2 separate regions of the Homo sapiens genome follow, and region 2 is linked to region 1. Evidence: fine-mapped expression QTL. Tissue or cell type: whole blood. Region 1 holds a variant in brackets; the other region holds the start of a gene. All regions are shown on one strand. Distances are between the middles of the regions.

Region 1 (8,100 bases):
GGCTCTCGCGGAGGAACCCGCCATCTGCCAGAAGCCCCAAAGACGCCCCGCCCCACTTCCCACAGCTTCCTGGCCCGCCCCGCCGCTGCCTCCCGCCCCACCGCGGCTCCCAGGCCGCTGGCCCTACCGGCACCCCCCCTTTGGCGAGTCGGCAGCCACGTCCTTGTCCTCACCCGCAGCGCAGTGACGCCGACCCATCCAACGGTCATCGCATGCGCGTGCCCCGCGCAGGCCCCAAACCCCCACGGATTAGGTTGAAGGTCAGACAAAAAATCCCGGACCCATACGTCCGGTTCCTTAAGGCCTTGCCCACACGCAGCGGCTGGCCCCGCGGTGGGAGTGGGGACGGGGCTTTCGAATGGGGGCCCCGGGAAGAGTCTTGGCAGGGATGAGGAAAGAACCCGTTCTAGAAAGCATCTGGGTAACACCAAAATGTATTACTACCCTAAATCGCCATGAACTGGAGCCCTTTCCCGGCTAACTCCCACAAAGATTTCTGTTCTCAAGCCAACATGGAAACAACTAGACGGGACACAGCACCGGGCAGTTTTATGTACTGACTTCCTTTAAGCGTTATCTAATAAAAAGTGTGTTATCTAATAAAAGTTCCACACAGTATTTAACCGTCTTAATTCATCTAGGGTAGCAGGGGATATAACAGAACTGCTGGGTTCCACAGGAGGTTGAGGGGCCAGGATCCCCAACACTAGATATCTTCCTTAGCGGGGAGAAAGCTGGAAATTACAAGATGACTCAACGGAGAAATGGGCTTCAGTGGGTAACTTTCAGAAAATTATAAACCCATATCAGTGCACATAGCGAGGGAAAGGGGAGTTTACTTGAGGTTTGGGTTACTGTGAGCAGACTACTTGGGGTGACTAGTATTGGCATCAGAACCAGAAATCCAGGCGCTCAGGGCAGCCCTGCAGGTGGGGTGGGTCTCCAGGCTGCTCCATACTCAGCGCCTGTGTTCCTCTCCATTCTTCGGGATCCATCAGACATACTCCATTGAGTACCCCCATCCCACCCCCTTTTCAGCTTCACAGGTTTCACAGAAATTTCTCACCACCTGTTTAAAAATAAAAATAATTCAGCCTCTTGACATAGCTTCTTCTAGGTAAACGGTCTTCTTTTTTTTTTTTTGTTTCCTTCTGCTCATAAAAGAAGGGTATTTCCTTGTCTGGTTTTTAGACAGAACACTAGCAGTCTGCAGAGTGTCAAAGATGTTCTCCTGGGGGATTACACTGGCGCTACAGGGTGGCAGGATCGTGGAGTCAGCATTAGTTGGTGTCCATGCTGCAAGCCTCATCATCCCCAAAGCCCTGCTGAGAGCTGCTTGGTCGTGTCCCTCCATCAGAGGAACCAGAACTGCTAAGTGAAGGTGTCTTATAAAATTCATCATCTCGACGTTGGTAAAATAGCACATAAGCTGCTTTAGTCTGAAATACAAGAGGGGGAAAGACCATTCAGTGCTTGGAAAAATCACCCATTTTCCCCAGCTTTTCTCTAGCTGTCCAAAACCCTCAAGGATCTGCCATATCCACACAGAGGAGACCCTTCCACCTGAGGATGGCTGCCCCTGCCAGGCAGCAGGAAATGGAAGGAGCCTTGTGCAGAGAACTCTGAGGAGAGCTGAGCTTCTCATTTATGAAGGTCCCTGAAGGAATGCCAGCCAGCTCTGTCACACCTAGCTCCCACTATCACATCAGGATGATGAAATAACCAACTAGCCTGATAGAGGCTCTTCCCAGCTTTAATCCATAACGACATGAGGAAGAACCACATATCATGGCCTACTCACCACTATCTGATCCTCAGAGGCCAGGGACACGTTGCTATCATCAAAGTAATACCATTTACCATTCAGTTTGTTCTTCGCATATGCAGTGTCTGCCAAGTCAACAAAGAAAATACTCTAGCGGTCTCCAGAGAATTAATCTGGCTAGCTTATTAGGCTTGCACTAAATAAACACAAAAATCCCCAAAACAAAACCCCTGAAATTAAAAAAGTTTACAGTGTGTGTCTTAACAACCAAAAAACAACTCACCTTCTTTTCTAATCTGTTCCTTCTCAAAAAGGATCAAAAGGCTAAAAATGGAGCTGTCAGGGACCAAGATTTTAAACTATAATTTTGGGAAACTAATAGAAAAAACAGAGCTATTCAGTGCCAATCTTCAGGATGGCTATGTGCAATAATCCAAAACCAGGGAACCCATAAAAGGAGCTGAAACTTCTAAGATTTAAGCAAAACAATAGCTCTCACAAGGACATGCCAAGTCAGTCTCCCCCATTGCATCTAGGCAGGTGGCTACTAACATCAACAGAATGCTTAGTGCCTCGGGAGCCTACAGAATAATCCCAGTTAGAGGAACATTGGGTGTTTGGGTTTGCAGAGCTGGGATGTGAACAACATACCTTAGTCTCCATATCCAAAAAAAAAAAAATTTATCTTTCTCTAAAACTAGGAGTCCAGAGTCTGTGGTTAGGTAACAGTTTCCCACAATGATTCAAGCATTTCCCAGAGGCAATGCTTCTTGTCTTGACTTTACACTATTCCCAAGCAGGATGTGTTTATTACAGCAATCCCAGCCCAGTTCCTGCTCCACCCAGACTCTCAGAAACTACAGAACCCAATGGAGATCTGATATCCAGTGTCAACTTACTGTGTGGTTTTAGGTAAGGTGTTTAACACTTCAGCCTCAGTTTCCTCACTATAGCATTGACTGCACAAAGTGGTGGTGAGGATCATGGGAAAGGGCAACAGAGAAGGTGCCCAAGGCCAGTTCACACAGTCTGTGCTTGACACAATAGCAGCAACGGTGGCTTTCAATTTTGAAGTTCCAACTGTAGGCCCAATGTGGACCCTCACACAACCAGCCTAACCTCATGGATGAGAAAACTGAGGATGAGAAACTTGCCCAAATGGTATGTTTGTGTGCAAAAATTAGCAAATAAAAATGAACACAGGCAGGGCACGGTGACTCACACCTGTGATCCCAACACTTTGGGAGGCCAAGGCAGGGTGGTTCGCTTGAGCCCAGGAGTTCAAGACCAGCCTGGGCAACATGCCAAAACCCTGTCTCTACTAAAAATACAAAAATTAGCCAGGTGTGGTGGCGCACACCTGTAATCCCAGCTACTCGGCAGGCTGAGGCACGAGAATCGCTTGAACCCGGGAGGTGGAGGTTGCAAGTGAGCCGAGACTGCGCCACTGCTTTCCAGCCTGGGTGACAGAGTGAGAATCTGTCTCAAAAAAAGAGCAAACCAGCCAGGCACAGTGCCTCACACCTGTAATCCCAGCACTTTGGGAGGCCGAGGCGGGCGGATCACGAGGTCAGGAGATCGAGACCATCCTGGCTAACATGGTGAAACCCCGTCTCTACTAAAAATACAAAAAATTAGCCAGGCGTGGTGGCGGGCGCCTGTAGTCCCAGCTACTCAGGAGGCTGAGGCAGGAGAATGGCGTGAACCTGGGAGGCAGAGCTTGCAGTGAGTGAGATTGCGCCACTGTGTTCTAGCCTGGGTGACATAACGAGACTCCGTCTCAAAAAAAAAAAAAAAAAAAGAATTAAAAAAAAACAGAGAGGGGAATCAGTATGAAGAAAGCGTGCAGCATGAAGCCTGTGAAACTGCATAAGCAAAGCATTTAGGGCAATGCCTGGTCCACTGGTGAGAGATGATGGCCGAGCACATTTCAACATCTCAGAAGGAAGCAGATGTCAATACTTACAGTGGCCAACCCCCATGGCTCCATAATGATTGGACACGGCAATGAGGTCGTACACATAAGGCCTTGCTGACAGGTTACAGACAAACTCGGACATGTTCAGCCCTCTGAGCACAAAACACAAAAATAGTTATTGAATATGTTAAACCCAAACAAAGTAGTTAAGAGTAACCCAGCAACCTCTGTTATGCAACAGGGCAGAACACAGGGAGGCACTCAAACTATTCGAGAGAGACCAAGATGGAAGGGACTCTAGGATCCATGTTCTGACCACTGACATATTCAGGCTAGAAAATGGGGCTGGGTGTGGTGGCTCATGCCTGTAATCCCAGCACTTTGGGGGGCCAAGGCAGGTGGATCACCTGAGATCAGGAGTTCGAGACGAGCCCGACCAACATGGTGAAATCCCGTCTCTGCTAAAAATACAAAAATTAGGCCGCGCACGGTGGCTCACACCTGTAATCCCAGCACTTTCGGAGGCCAAGGCAGGCGGATCACGAGATCAGAAGATTGAGACCATCCTGGCTAACACGGTGAAACCCTGTCTCTACTAAAAAATACAAAAATTAGCTGGGCGTGGTGGTGGGCGCCTGTAGTCCCAGCTACTCGGGAGGCTGAGGCAGGAGAATGGCGTGAACCCGGGAGGTGGAGCTTGCAGTGAGCCAAGATCGCACTACTGCAGTCCAGCCTGGGCAACAGAGCGAGACTCCGTCTCAAAAAAGAAAAAAAGTATGTGTATATATATATATATACACACACACACACACACACACACACACACACACACACACATATATACATTTATATATACACACACACACAAATTAGCCGGGCATGGTGGCACACACCTGTAATCCTAGCTACTTGGGAGGCTGAGGTAGGAGAATCGATTGATCCTGGGAGGCAGAGTTTGCAGTGAGCCGAGATCGTGCCATTGCACTTCAGCCTGGGCAACAAGAGCGTAACTCCGTCTCAAAAAAAAAAAAAAAAGGCCGGGCACAGTGGCTCATGCCTGTAATCCCAGCACTTTGGGAGGCCAAGGTGGGTGGATCATGAGGTCAGGAGTTTGAGACCATCCTGGCCAACATGGTAAAACCCCGTCTCTACTAAAAATACAAAAATTAGCTGGGTATGGTGGCAGGCGCCTGTAGTCCCAGCTACTCAGGAGGCTGAGGCAGGAGAATTGCTTGAACCCAGGAGGCAGAGGTTGTAGTGAGCCGAGATCGCACCACTGCACTCTGGCCTGGCGACAGAGTGAGACACGGTCTCAAAAAAAAACAAAAACAAAACAAAAA[A/C]AACAACAACAACAACAAAAGAAAATGGGAGAACCTTTCTGGGTAACTCCAGCACCAGACAAAATGGTGATGAGGGTCTAGAGATACACACAGAGGGCTTCAGCAAGTATGCAGAAATGGCTGTTCTTAACAGAATTACAGTTGGTGCCATAATAATTTAAACTCAACCAAAACAGGCCCCAGAAAGCTTTCTTCCTCCAATATTTTATTTAAAAATTTTCAAACACACAGAAAAGATAAAGAATTTTTTTTTTTTTGAGACGGAGTCTCGCTGTGTCGTCCGGGCTGGAGTGCAGTGGCGCGATCTTGACTCACTGCAACCTCTGCCTCTTGGGTTCAAGTGATTCTCCTGCCTCAGCCTCCCAAGTAGCAGGGATTACAGGCATGCGCCACCATGCCTAGCTAATTTTGTTTTGTACTTTTAGTAGAGATGGGGTTTCACCATGTTGGTCAGGCTGGTCTCAAACTCCTGACCTCGTAATTTGCCCACCTCAGCCTCCCAAAGTGCTGGGATTACAGGTGTGAGCCACTGCGCCCAGCCAAGATAAAGAATTTTTACAACAAATACTTATTATCCATCACCTGGCGTCTCCTGCTGACATGCTATACTTCATGTATCTATTCTTTCCCCCAGAAAGCATTTTAAAATCTACATTTTGTGGGCAACTCCCTTTTTTTTTTCTTTTTTTGGAAACAGGGGCTTGCTCTGTTGCTGAGGCTGGAGTGCAGTGGCACAATCTTGGCTCACTGCAACCTCCGCCTAGTGGGTTCAAGCAATTCTCCTGCCTCAGCCTCCCTAGTAGCTGGGATTACAGGCGTGCACCACCACATCCAGCTAATTTTTGTAGTTTTACTGGAGACAGGATTTCACCATGTTGGCCAGGCTACTCTCCGGCTCCTGATCTCAAGTGATCCACCCACCTTGGCCTCCCACAGTGCTGGGATTACAGGTGTGAGCCACTGTGCCGGCCTCTTTTTTTTTTTTTTTTTTTTTTTTTTGAGATAGAGTCTCGCTCTGTCACCAGGCTGGAGTGCAGTGGTGCAATCTTGGCTCACTGCAACTTTTGCCTCCTAGGTTCAGGCGATTTTCCTGCCTCAGCCTCCTGAGTAGCTGGGACCACAGGTGTGCGCCACCACATCCAGCTAACTTTTGCATTTTTAGTAGAGATGGGGTTTCACCATGTTGGCCAGGATGGTCTCGATCTCCAGACCTTGTGATCTGCCCACCTTGGCCTCCCAAAGTGCTGGGATTACAAGCATGAGCCACCGTGCCCAGCCTATTTTTTTAAATATATTTTTTATTTTTTGTAGAGAGGAAGTCTCTCTATGTTGTCCAGGCTGGTTTTGAACTCCTAGGCTCAAGTGATCCTCCCACCTTGGCCTCCCAAATTGATGATATGTGAGCCACTGTGCCCAGCCAGGGAACATCTATCTGTTAACTTACTTTCCTGTTCTTAGTTACAGTCTGTACTGTGGGGCTTGAGAGGATATGAGTAGACAGCCAGTCCCAATCCCTACCCCAGGGACAGGATCATGGCAGGTGTGCAGCCCACCTGCAGCCCCCAATAATAACCCAACTCTACCTGACAGGCTATTCTTGGTTGCCTTGTCCCCTGTTGTGCTGCCTCTGCTAAGGTGAGGCTACCTGTGACAGATGATGGACAGGAAGGCCAGTTAGGTGGCCTAAGTGACTCGAGAGGGAAACTAGCAGTGGCAGGGGTGACTGGCAGCAGCCTGTGTCTGGGCAAATGCTTCCACTGGAGAGTCTCTTCCCCAAAGATGGGAGGATAGGGACAGAAGGGGTAACTACAGCTAAACTCTGACCTCCTAGACCCCGGCAACACACATCCTTACTCAGAAAAGTTTTTGGTGGCAAACCACTCAGCCAATCAGTGCCAAGATTTTCTGCCTGTTTTTAAATGTTCCTAACACTGTAGTCACCATGACCCACCTGATTGGGAATTCTACGACTGTGTCGAGCTTATCCCTCCAGTATCTGTTGTAGGAGAAACGTTTGAGGTGGACCACCAGGATCTTGGGCAAGGACCATAGGTCAAACTTTTTTGTGGCCTGTTGATGCTTCTTACAGTTGGGACAGTACCTAAAAAGAGAAACCTCCACTTAGCAGGGCAAGCCGGCAGCCAGTGCCACCTGGGCACTCATGCATGGAGGCACAGCTGCAGTCCCCTGATAGCTGCCATCCTCTCGGTCAGCACTCAACACTACTGCTTCTGGCCAGGGACCTGTCTTCCAAAATGGGGTGACGGCTTTCCTTGGAAACCTCAACTCACAGAGGATTATGTTGTAGGGTTAGCTATATAAAGAAGTGACACATCCAAATACAAAGGGGTTTATGTGCACAGATGGCCCTAGCAGATCTGAGTCCTGGGGTGCATGGGGCCTCTGCCCAGACAGTGAGGAGCTGCGTACCAGGGGTCATGCTCCCCAAGGGTCTCCATGGTGGTGAAGAGCTCGATGCAGTCTCTCAGGGCCACTGTGGTCTTCTTCTTCTTCTGAGGCTGCAACATGCTCACATGCTTCTCGTAGGCCTATGGGAATCAAAGCACTCAGTTCTGCTGGAGAAAGAGATCTTACTGCATTAAGACATGAAGGCCTACAGAGGCTCTCCCACCTGGAATGTAGTACACTTTCTAGAGCCTCTGAATATAAAATGACAAAATCTTGAAGTGCTTTTCCTTCTCAGTCTTAAATATAACTTGCTAAATTGCTGTCCAACTGGTGAAAGTGATCGCAGTCCACATCCAGAGCAGAAACCAGCAGACACCACCGACCACGAACCCCGAGGGACCTACCTCAGATTCTTGCTCATCATAGTAAAGTCTCCGAGTTTCACTGTCCCAATCCATGGCCAGTGTAGATCGAGCTGAGGAGGACCAAAATGTCACTTGTTATGGAATGGCAAGCAACAGGAAAGGCTCTCCAAGTGACAGGAGTGAGAAGGACCACACTCAGGCCACACCATCAACACCTTCTCCCCCATCAGCAGCCAGTGTCAAGAGCAATGCTCTGCAATGGGCCAGCCCTTCTGACCCCCAGCCCCAAAAAGCCTTTGGCAA
Region 2 (8,100 bases), 410 kb after region 1:
CCCCACCTCACACCCTCCCAGGTTGTCCACATACCTCTCCAGCTTGAGCAGGACAAGCTGGGAGCCTGAGGGCCCACACACCATCTTGGCTACTGGGACCCGCTGTAGGCTTGGCTCTCCATGCTGTGGGTTCTGGAACAGGGTGCCCAACCATACCTCATAGCCCGTGAGAGGCATATGGCTGGGAGAGAAGCTCTGCTAGGTCATTTGTGACTCTCAGTCCATTGCCCCAAGGCTCACTTGTTAGCTTGCCTGGGGAAGGGGGAAGGTGGGATGAGACTGGGTCCCCAAACACAAGGGAGGCTCACCAGGAGGAGAAGCACTGCCGGGCAGTCAGTATCCACTGCTCCTTCACTAGAGACCCCCCGCAGAAATGCTGGCCCTGCCTAGAGGAGTGGGGAATTAGGACAGGTAACAGACTCCTGGGACAGATGCTAGACCTGCCATCTTCTGGCTAGGACCTCTGGGGGCAGGGATAGATTCCCAGCCCCCAGTGGGATAACCACAGAGGACACAACCTCAGCTCCTCTCTGTGGGAGACAGGCAGTTGTGCCTCACCGATTCCGCAAGCTGACTGTCCAGGGTGAGTTGCCCGGATGGCCCCCAACCACGCGCAGCTTGGAACGCCGCTGATCCAGCCGATCCACCCTCTTGCCACACTTCTCAAACTGCACCTGGTCTGTAGGATGGGGTGGGCTGGATGAAACCCAGACTGTGTGGATGTCGTGGGCTAAAGGGCCTGACCCATAACTGGCCCAACTCCTAACCTGGGGGGTCCAGGATTGATGGCGGCTGGTCATCAGCTGAAAGACAAAGTTCACTGGGGTTAAGGGAGCCAGCCTTTGGGTGGGGGCTGAGGCAGGGTCATGGGGGAAGCGTCACTAGTGCTCACCGCAGCGTCGCAGGGCACAGTAGTCGAATGGGGTCCTTGGGTCCATCGTGTAGCACCAGGGCCCATGGCTATCCCCATCTGGGTTCCGGCAGAAGTTCTCCTCCAGTTGTGCATGCGGTTCGGAGGTAAACGTGAACCTAGGCGGAAGCGGGAGCAAAATCGTGGCAGGGTAGTCTCAACCATTTCCAGGCTCTGGTCCCAGACACCAAAGCATGCCGCCCCAGGGTTAGGGCCCTGGCGGGGCCGGGAGCACCAGGGACTCACTGCGGCTTGTGCGGCGTCTCAGCGGACCAGCGCTGGCACTGGACACCCTTGCGGGTCTTGCTGACCGTGCCGCGGTACTGCTCCCCTGCGCCGTGGTAGCAGTCTGTGGCGGGTGCGGGCAGCCATCAGGCCGAGACCTCGCCCCGGCCCTCCGGTTCCAGGCTTCCAGCCCGGCTCTGTAGCCCCCAAGCTTGGGCCTCACCCTGGGGCCGCACGTCGTCTGTACAACGCCGGATCTGGTAGCAAAAGGCCGCGCGCATGCCGGGCCGCAGTGTGAAGCACCAGGGCGCCTCTGAGCCGTCGGGGTTCCGGCAGAAGTTCTCCCGAAGGTCTCTAAGCAGGCGCTCCACTCAGCCCTAGCCCGCCAGCCTCCAGCCTTGAGCCCGTGACTACCTTCCTCCCGTCTCACCCGCAGCAGCACGTCCCAACGCCCGCCCCCCCCCCCCACCTCACTTGCACGCGTATTTTTCTGGCGTAAATCGGTGCTGATGCGGGATTTGCGCGTCCCAACGCTGGCAAGGTACGCCCGCAGTGGTGGTATTGGCTGTGCCCCGGTAGCCCTCACCCTTCCCGCGGAAGCAGCTGACAGTTGTGGCCTCTTGGCGGGGCTGTGCCTCGGACCCTTAGATGGACCGAGATAGGTCGGGCCCCGAGCGAGAGCTGAGATCCCTCTGGGGCTGGGACCAAACCCGCCTTTCCCAGGTGTACGGTACTCCACGGGGTATGCTCTCAGGTCACGCCCAGCCCCTCTTACCTCCCCGGCCAAGCCACGCCCCTCCCCAAGGTTCCCAGGTACCCTCCCAGGCCTGGTCCCCGCCGCCTACCGCAGCGGGGGAGGTCACAGAACTCTCGCTCGATCTGCGGATCCGTAGTGTAGCACCATGGCCGCTCGGAGCCGTCAGGATTCCGGCAATAGTTGTCGTCCAGACCTTGGTCGAGGAACCTGGGGGCGGTAATGGGGCGTGAACAAGACCCTGGGACTCTGGCTTATCTGGCCCCGCCCAATTGCCCTACACGGAGCCCTGCCCCTGGAGTCCTGGACCTTCCCTAGCCCGGCCCCCAGGACGCCGATACCGCCTACGCGTACTTGCCCGGCTCGAAGGGGTGCTGGTGCGGGTGCTGAAGATCCCAGCGCTGGCACTCGCGCCCTGACTCCGTGCGGTCTACCGCGCCGCGGTATTCCTCGCCATTGCACCAGACACACGCGGCTGGAGACAAAGAGCCAGTGGGTTCGTGGATGGACGTGGGCTTGTCCCTCCACTCTCCCAGCTTGACCCGGCGCCGCTTACCCTCCCGGCAGGATTTGATGCCGCAGCTCTGGAAGCGCACAGCAGGGTCTGTTGTGTAGCACCAAGGACCTCCGGGGTCGCCATCAGGGTTACGGCAGAAGTTCTCTTCCAGGCCATTCCGGAGAGTGGGCGTGTACCTGAGGGCCCAGAGCATCACTATAGTGTGTGCTGGGGGAAGGCCCCAGGCCGGGACGGAGGGAAGGTGTTTGTCTCACTTGTGATCATTTGGGAACTTGTGGCTCCAAGCCTGGCAGGGCAGGCCACCCACGGTCGTGGCCATGGTGCCCCGGTACCCAACCCCATTGTTCATGATGCAGGTCCGTACGTAGTCTGGGAGCAAGAGACAGAAGATCAACTTGGGCTGAGGTCCCCTGTCTCCCACCCTGCCCCTCTCCACCCCCACTTGCCTTTCTTCTGGAAGAGGTCACAGCGCCCAGAACGCCGCAGCCTCGTGTGGGGCGAGTGTTGAGTCCATGGCAGCAGTTGGCAACCATGGCTGCTCACGTTGTAGTGGAAGGCCCTGGAGAGAAGAAGGCACAGGGTAACGCCACAGCCCAGGCTTCCCTGCCCCCAGTCTTATCTAGGCCCAGTGGCCACTCACCGGCAGTCCATTAAGGGCCCACAGCGACCAGCACACTCTTCAGCATCTGCCACATCCTCCTGCCAAGGCCCGGGCACCACCGCATGTAGCAGGTGCTGTAGCTCTGTGCCCCGGAGCACTTGGAAGTCATTCAATGGCGAGCGCTGCCCTGCAGAGTAGGCATGAGTGGGTGCAGGTCAGGTGGGCATACATGTCAGTAATGTGTATTGGCATGTCCACACTTTGTTCATTCAGGGGATCAAAGCTACAAGGCTTCTGGGATGGACCCTGTATGCACTTTCAAGGGCCAGTCTAGCCCCCTGCACAGATACTTGTGAAAAAAATTTCCCCTGGGAAGCAGGCCCAGACTTGGTAGTTATCACCGGTGCCTCTGTTTAGTGGCCCAGGCACCGGGCTCAGATCTAACACATACGCTCTGTGAGAGCAGTGGGTGATGAAGCTTGCCCCACCTCATCTCTCAAATGAGAATGCTAAGGCTCAGAGCCATCACATTACCCAGCCAGGGGCCCTGGCTAGGCATTCAGACTCCAAATCTGGGCTCTCACCTGCACAAAGGCATATGCTAGGTTAGAGGGGTAGATCAGGCTCAGGAGGGGTCACTGCCTGCTGTGTGCGTGCATCTGTGTGGTCCTGACACTGCTTCAGTGCTAGAGCAGACGTGCTAATAGAGGCCTAAGTGGGCAATGTCTATGTGTTCCTAGGGCTTCCCAGCTGTGCTCAAGAGGGCAAGGTCACTGCCCCATGCCCACTGAGCCTCTGGCTCCCCGACTTTTTTCTCATCCTAGAATAGGAGAATGGGGCCAACCCCCTCCTGAAGGCAGATGGGGATCAGGGTTGGGGGCACTTACCAGGGACCCCTAAGCATTGAGTCAGAAGCAGCAGGAGTGGGAGCCACCCCATCCTTCTGGCTGGAGGCTGCACTGTGACCCACCACAGCCCCATCCGGGAAGTTGTGAAACCTGTCCCTACGGGATTGGGTGGCTCTGGCTCCACACGTCAGCTCAGGGCCTGCTGGACCCTGACCTGAGACCTGGTGACAGGAGCCATGAGGGGCCAGGCCTCAGGTCCCATAGGTCAGTTGCAAGGGCCTAGTACAGCTTAGTGGACAGGTGTTAGGAAGGTTTGGTGGGGACACTTGAGGTGCCCTGGGGTTGGGGTGAAACCCCTCTGCAGCCTAGTCAGCCCAAGGGCATTGTGAAAGTGAGAGCTGCCAGAGGTCTGGGCTCCAGCCCCTGGGTGACATTAAACTTTTCTGAATTTCGGTTTTTCCCTGTAAATTGGGGAAAATTACTTGCCCCAGCTTCAACACTGCCTCCCCTCCACCCTTTTGCTGCTGCCTTATCAGGCCCCAGCTGTAGGCAGGTCAGCCCACACCCGGCGGCAGAGCCCAGAGAGGCTCGCTCATCTCAGCCGCCAGAAGTGTCATCCCAGGGAAGGTGAGCGAGGCTGTCCACTAGGACTAAATAGGGGTGGAGGTAACAGGTAGCAGGGACTCTGGCAGGAACGGCCTTTCAGACGTTTTAAGGACCGTCTGAGCGGGGCCTCTAAGTATGGGTAGGAGACAGGCGGCCTAGGGATTCCGGTTAGCATGTCGCGTTCTGCCGCAGCAGGGCTGGGAGCATCCCCAGAGCAGGCGGAGGTCGGAGGTGGTGAGGCCTTTCGGCGAAGCTGAGGCCTGGAACAACCCGGTGGGAAGCCATGGAGGGGGTCCCCTAGCGGAGGCTGGGCGCGGGCCAGTGCGCGTGCGCGGCTGGAGGCTCAGCGCGCAAGCGTGCGCGTGATTTGGCCCTGAACGGACGCCGTAGCCAAGAGGTTGGGCGGATGTTGTGAGCCGGGTCGCTGCGGCCGAGGCTCCGGGTGAGTGAGGGGCGGCAGGGCTCTGAGCCTGGCGGGTTCCGGCTATTCCCTTCGCGGTCCGGGCTAGTCCAGTGCGAGGGCACCTGCAGCGCAGGGATCTGGGTGCGAAACTCCGAGCGGAAGCTGGTCTGGCAGGTCCTGTGGAGCTTGGGGCCAGGCGGGGGCGACTTGGGGGAGCCATGCGCCGCCCTCGCCGTCCTTGGGCTCCCAGACGGAGTAGGTTCAGTTCTGAGTCCGGATACCCCGGCGGGGTTGGACGGGATAGCCGTGACAGGGAGTCCCCGGGCGGGGACAAGGTCCGCCTCTCACCTGGGTCCTCAGCAACTGACTCCCGGAGCCCACTCCGGGTGTCTGGAAGGTCTGCTCATCAAATGAATGACTGAGTTTAATCAGATCTTCAACTACTCTGGTAGTGAAGGGGCACCGATCATGGACGCCCACCGAGGGCCCGAGGTCGGGAAAATCACCTTCCCGAGGAGCAGGCGTGGTGCAGACCCACAAGGGTTTGTGGCGGGAGTAGAGGGTCTGTTTGGGGTGAGATAAGAGACTGAACTGCAGAGTAGGGAGTGCTGGCTAAGGCAGTGCTGCAGAGCGAAACTCTAGACCTGCGCTGTCTAATAGAACTTTATATGATGGTGGGAACGTTCTACCTTTGTGCTGTCCAACAGAGTAACCATTAGCCACATGTGGTCATTGAACTCTTGAAATGTGGCTAAGGCAACTGAGAAATCGAATTGTTAATTTTTAAAACTTTAAATTTAAGTAACCTCATGTGGATGACGGCTGCTGTGTTGGACAGCACCGCTACACATCAGTGAGGCCAGCACCAGGGACTCAGTGCAGGTTCTGGAGCAGCTGCAGCAGCAACATGATGTGAGGGATAGATGCACTAGGAGGACCAATGGAGTTTGCCATGAGGGCTGGGCAAGGGTGGTGCTTGGATGAGGTGGGAGGCCACATGTGTGAGTGGGAATGGTGAAACTATCAGGACCATGGATAAAAGAAGGGAGGAACCCAGGGCTGAGGAAAGAGGCTCCAGCCTTGTGGGGAGTAAGTGGGACTTATGGCTAGAGATGACCAGACCAGTGGTGGTCTGCACTTGGGGGAATGTGTAGGATTGTCGCTTCTGGTTGTGAGCTGGACTCAGTATGGCTTACAACTGAGATGGATACAGGGGCTCTGCCCCTAGGACACCTCACTTTGGACATTTTGGTCTGATTTCCACAGAGCTGAGACATTTTGTTATGGTTCGGCAAAAATATATCTAGTACCTGCTCTCTGCCCAGCCCTGTGCTGGGCACAGGGACACTGGAGAACAAGAAGTGGTCCCTGTTACATGGGCCTAGACCCTGGCTACCCTCCCTGTGTAGGAAGCTGGGAGCCCCTGCATTCCCCTGCCCTATGTGTTAGTGTGCATGCCCCTGGCCTCACCTGCTCCCAAGCCTTCCTGCCATGGCAGGACTGAGGTCAGGTGTGGGGGCCCCTGGCTGGCCCTGAGTAGACAGGCTCTGTGTCTGGCTCAGCCCCCAGGACCACTGGCTGCCCATGAGAGATGAAGGATGGCATCCAAGGGGGCCGGCATGTCTTTCTCCCGCAAGAGCTATAGGCTGACCTCAGATGCTGAGAAATCCAGGGTCACAGGTAAGAGCTGGCAGGGAAGGAAGGAGGCTCCTCTTGTTGGGAGGAGAAGGAAGGGACAAAGGCCTCAGGCCTTGCTGCACCTGTGGCTGGCCTAGGACCAGAAGTCTCTGGGGCCAGCAGGGGCCAGGAGCTGCACTGATCATGTGGCCCTTTTCTCCCTTCTGACTTGTGGCTCAGGCATTGTGCAGGAGAAGCTGCTGAATGACTACCTGAACCGCATCTTTTCCTCTTCTGAACATGCACCCCCAGCAGCCACCAGCAGGTATGGCTGGGTGGGTGGCCCCTCCTCACTCTGCTGGGCCAGACCAGAATAAGGAGGCTGCAGTTGTAGGGAAAGGGAGCCTGGGCTCTGGACAGATAGGCTTAGGCTCTGTTCTCACTGTGCTCCTGGCTGCGAGATCTCTGGCCAGAGAGTCTGCCTTCCGTACTCTGCTTCTTCCTGTCTCCAGGCAGTGCTAGTTCCTTCTGAGAGTCAGGGAGCAGAGGTCAGGGAGCGGGTGCACATTCATGCCCAGCTAGCACCTGGCACCTACTCCATACCCAGCATCTGCCCCTGCATGTACCTGCCCTCACCTTGGCCCCAGCCTGGCCCCTTGTAGCTTCTGACTGACCTTGTAAAGAACAAACTCCTCCAGGGCCTTTTCTTTACAAGTTTAATACTTTTAAGTGTAGTCAGTATAAAAGTTACAAGTACATTTTAGCAGAAACTTAGAGGGCCAGGCACAGTGGTTCACACCTGTAATCCCAGCACTTTGGGAGGCCAAGGTGGGTAGATTGCTTGAGTCCAGGAGTTCAAGACCAGCCTGAGCAACATGGCAAGACCCCATCTCTACAATAAAATACAGAAATTACCTGGGCATGGTGGTGTGCACCTGTAGTCCCAGCTGTTAGGGAGGCTGATGTGGGAGGATCACTTGAGCCTAGGAGGTTGAGGCTGCAGTGAGTTGGCCTCTGCATGCCACTGCACTGTAGCCTGGGTGACAGAGCAAGACCCTGTCTCTAAAAAAAGAAGGAAAAGCACCTGCTATCTTGTTATTTTAACATGACTATTCAAATGTGATTCTTTTCTGTTTCTTTCTTTGTGTTACATTTTTAATTTTTAATTTTTGTGGGTATGTAGTAGGTATATATATTTATAGGGTACATGAGATACTTTGATACAGGCATGCAATGCGTAATAATCACATCATGGTAAATGGGGTATCCATCCCCTCAAGCATTTATCTTTTGTCTTATAAACAATCTAGTTATACTCTTTTAGTTATTTTTAAATGTACAATTATTATTTACTATAGTCACTCTGTTCTGCTACCAGATAGGTCTCATTAATTCAATTTTTTTGTACGCATTAGCCATCCCCATCTCCCCACAAGCCCTATACTACCCTTCCAAGCCTCTGGTAACCATCCAGTACTTTGCCTCTATGAGTTCAATTGTTTTAATTTTTAGCTGTCACAAATAAGTGATAACATGCAATGTTTGTCTTTTTCTGCCTGGCTTATTTCATTTAACATAATGACCTCCAGTTCCATCCATGTTGTTGCATATTACAGGAT

The links. PIP is the estimated chance that this variant, and not a neighbour inherited with it, causes the effect.
Region 2: it holds the start of MST1, and the variant in region 1 is fine-mapped to the expression of MST1 in whole blood (TOPMed, PIP above 0.99).

What each region holds. Positions count from the first base shown.
Region 1 is chr3:49,277,013-49,285,112 of GRCh38, forward strand. It overlaps C3orf62 (chromosome 3 open reading frame 62), which reads right to left and starts at 220. Exons shown (of 3, transcript NM_198562.3): 1 at 1-220. It overlaps USP4 (ubiquitin specific peptidase 4), which reads right to left. Exons shown (of 22, transcript NM_003363.4): 17 at 7,837-7,907; 18 at 7,454-7,572; 19 at 6,975-7,124; 20 at 3,732-3,835; 21 at 1,802-1,890; 22 at 132-1,439. The coding sequence ends at 1,281. RefSeq lists a silencer at 44-243. The variant A/C (reference allele first, on the strand shown) is at 5,024.
Region 2 is chr3:49,684,704-49,692,803 of GRCh38, forward strand. MST1 (macrophage stimulating 1) reads right to left here and starts at 4,771. Exons shown (of 18, transcript NM_020998.4): 1 at 3,895-4,771; 2 at 3,047-3,194; 3 at 2,853-2,965; 4 at 2,661-2,775; 5 at 2,446-2,582; 6 at 2,244-2,364; 7 at 1,981-2,099; 8 at 1,610-1,778; 9 at 1,359-1,489; 10 at 1,157-1,259; 11 at 893-1,029; 12 at 768-803; 13 at 559-679; 14 at 309-386; 1 more. The coding sequence starts at 3,988. RNF123 (ring finger protein 123) reads left to right here and starts at 4,854. Exons shown (of 39, transcript NM_022064.5): 1 at 4,854-4,903; 2 at 6,427-6,544; 3 at 6,722-6,806. The coding sequence starts at 6,463. RefSeq lists enhancers at 1,181-1,894, 1,895-2,608, 4,125-4,684 and a silencer at 2,163-2,282.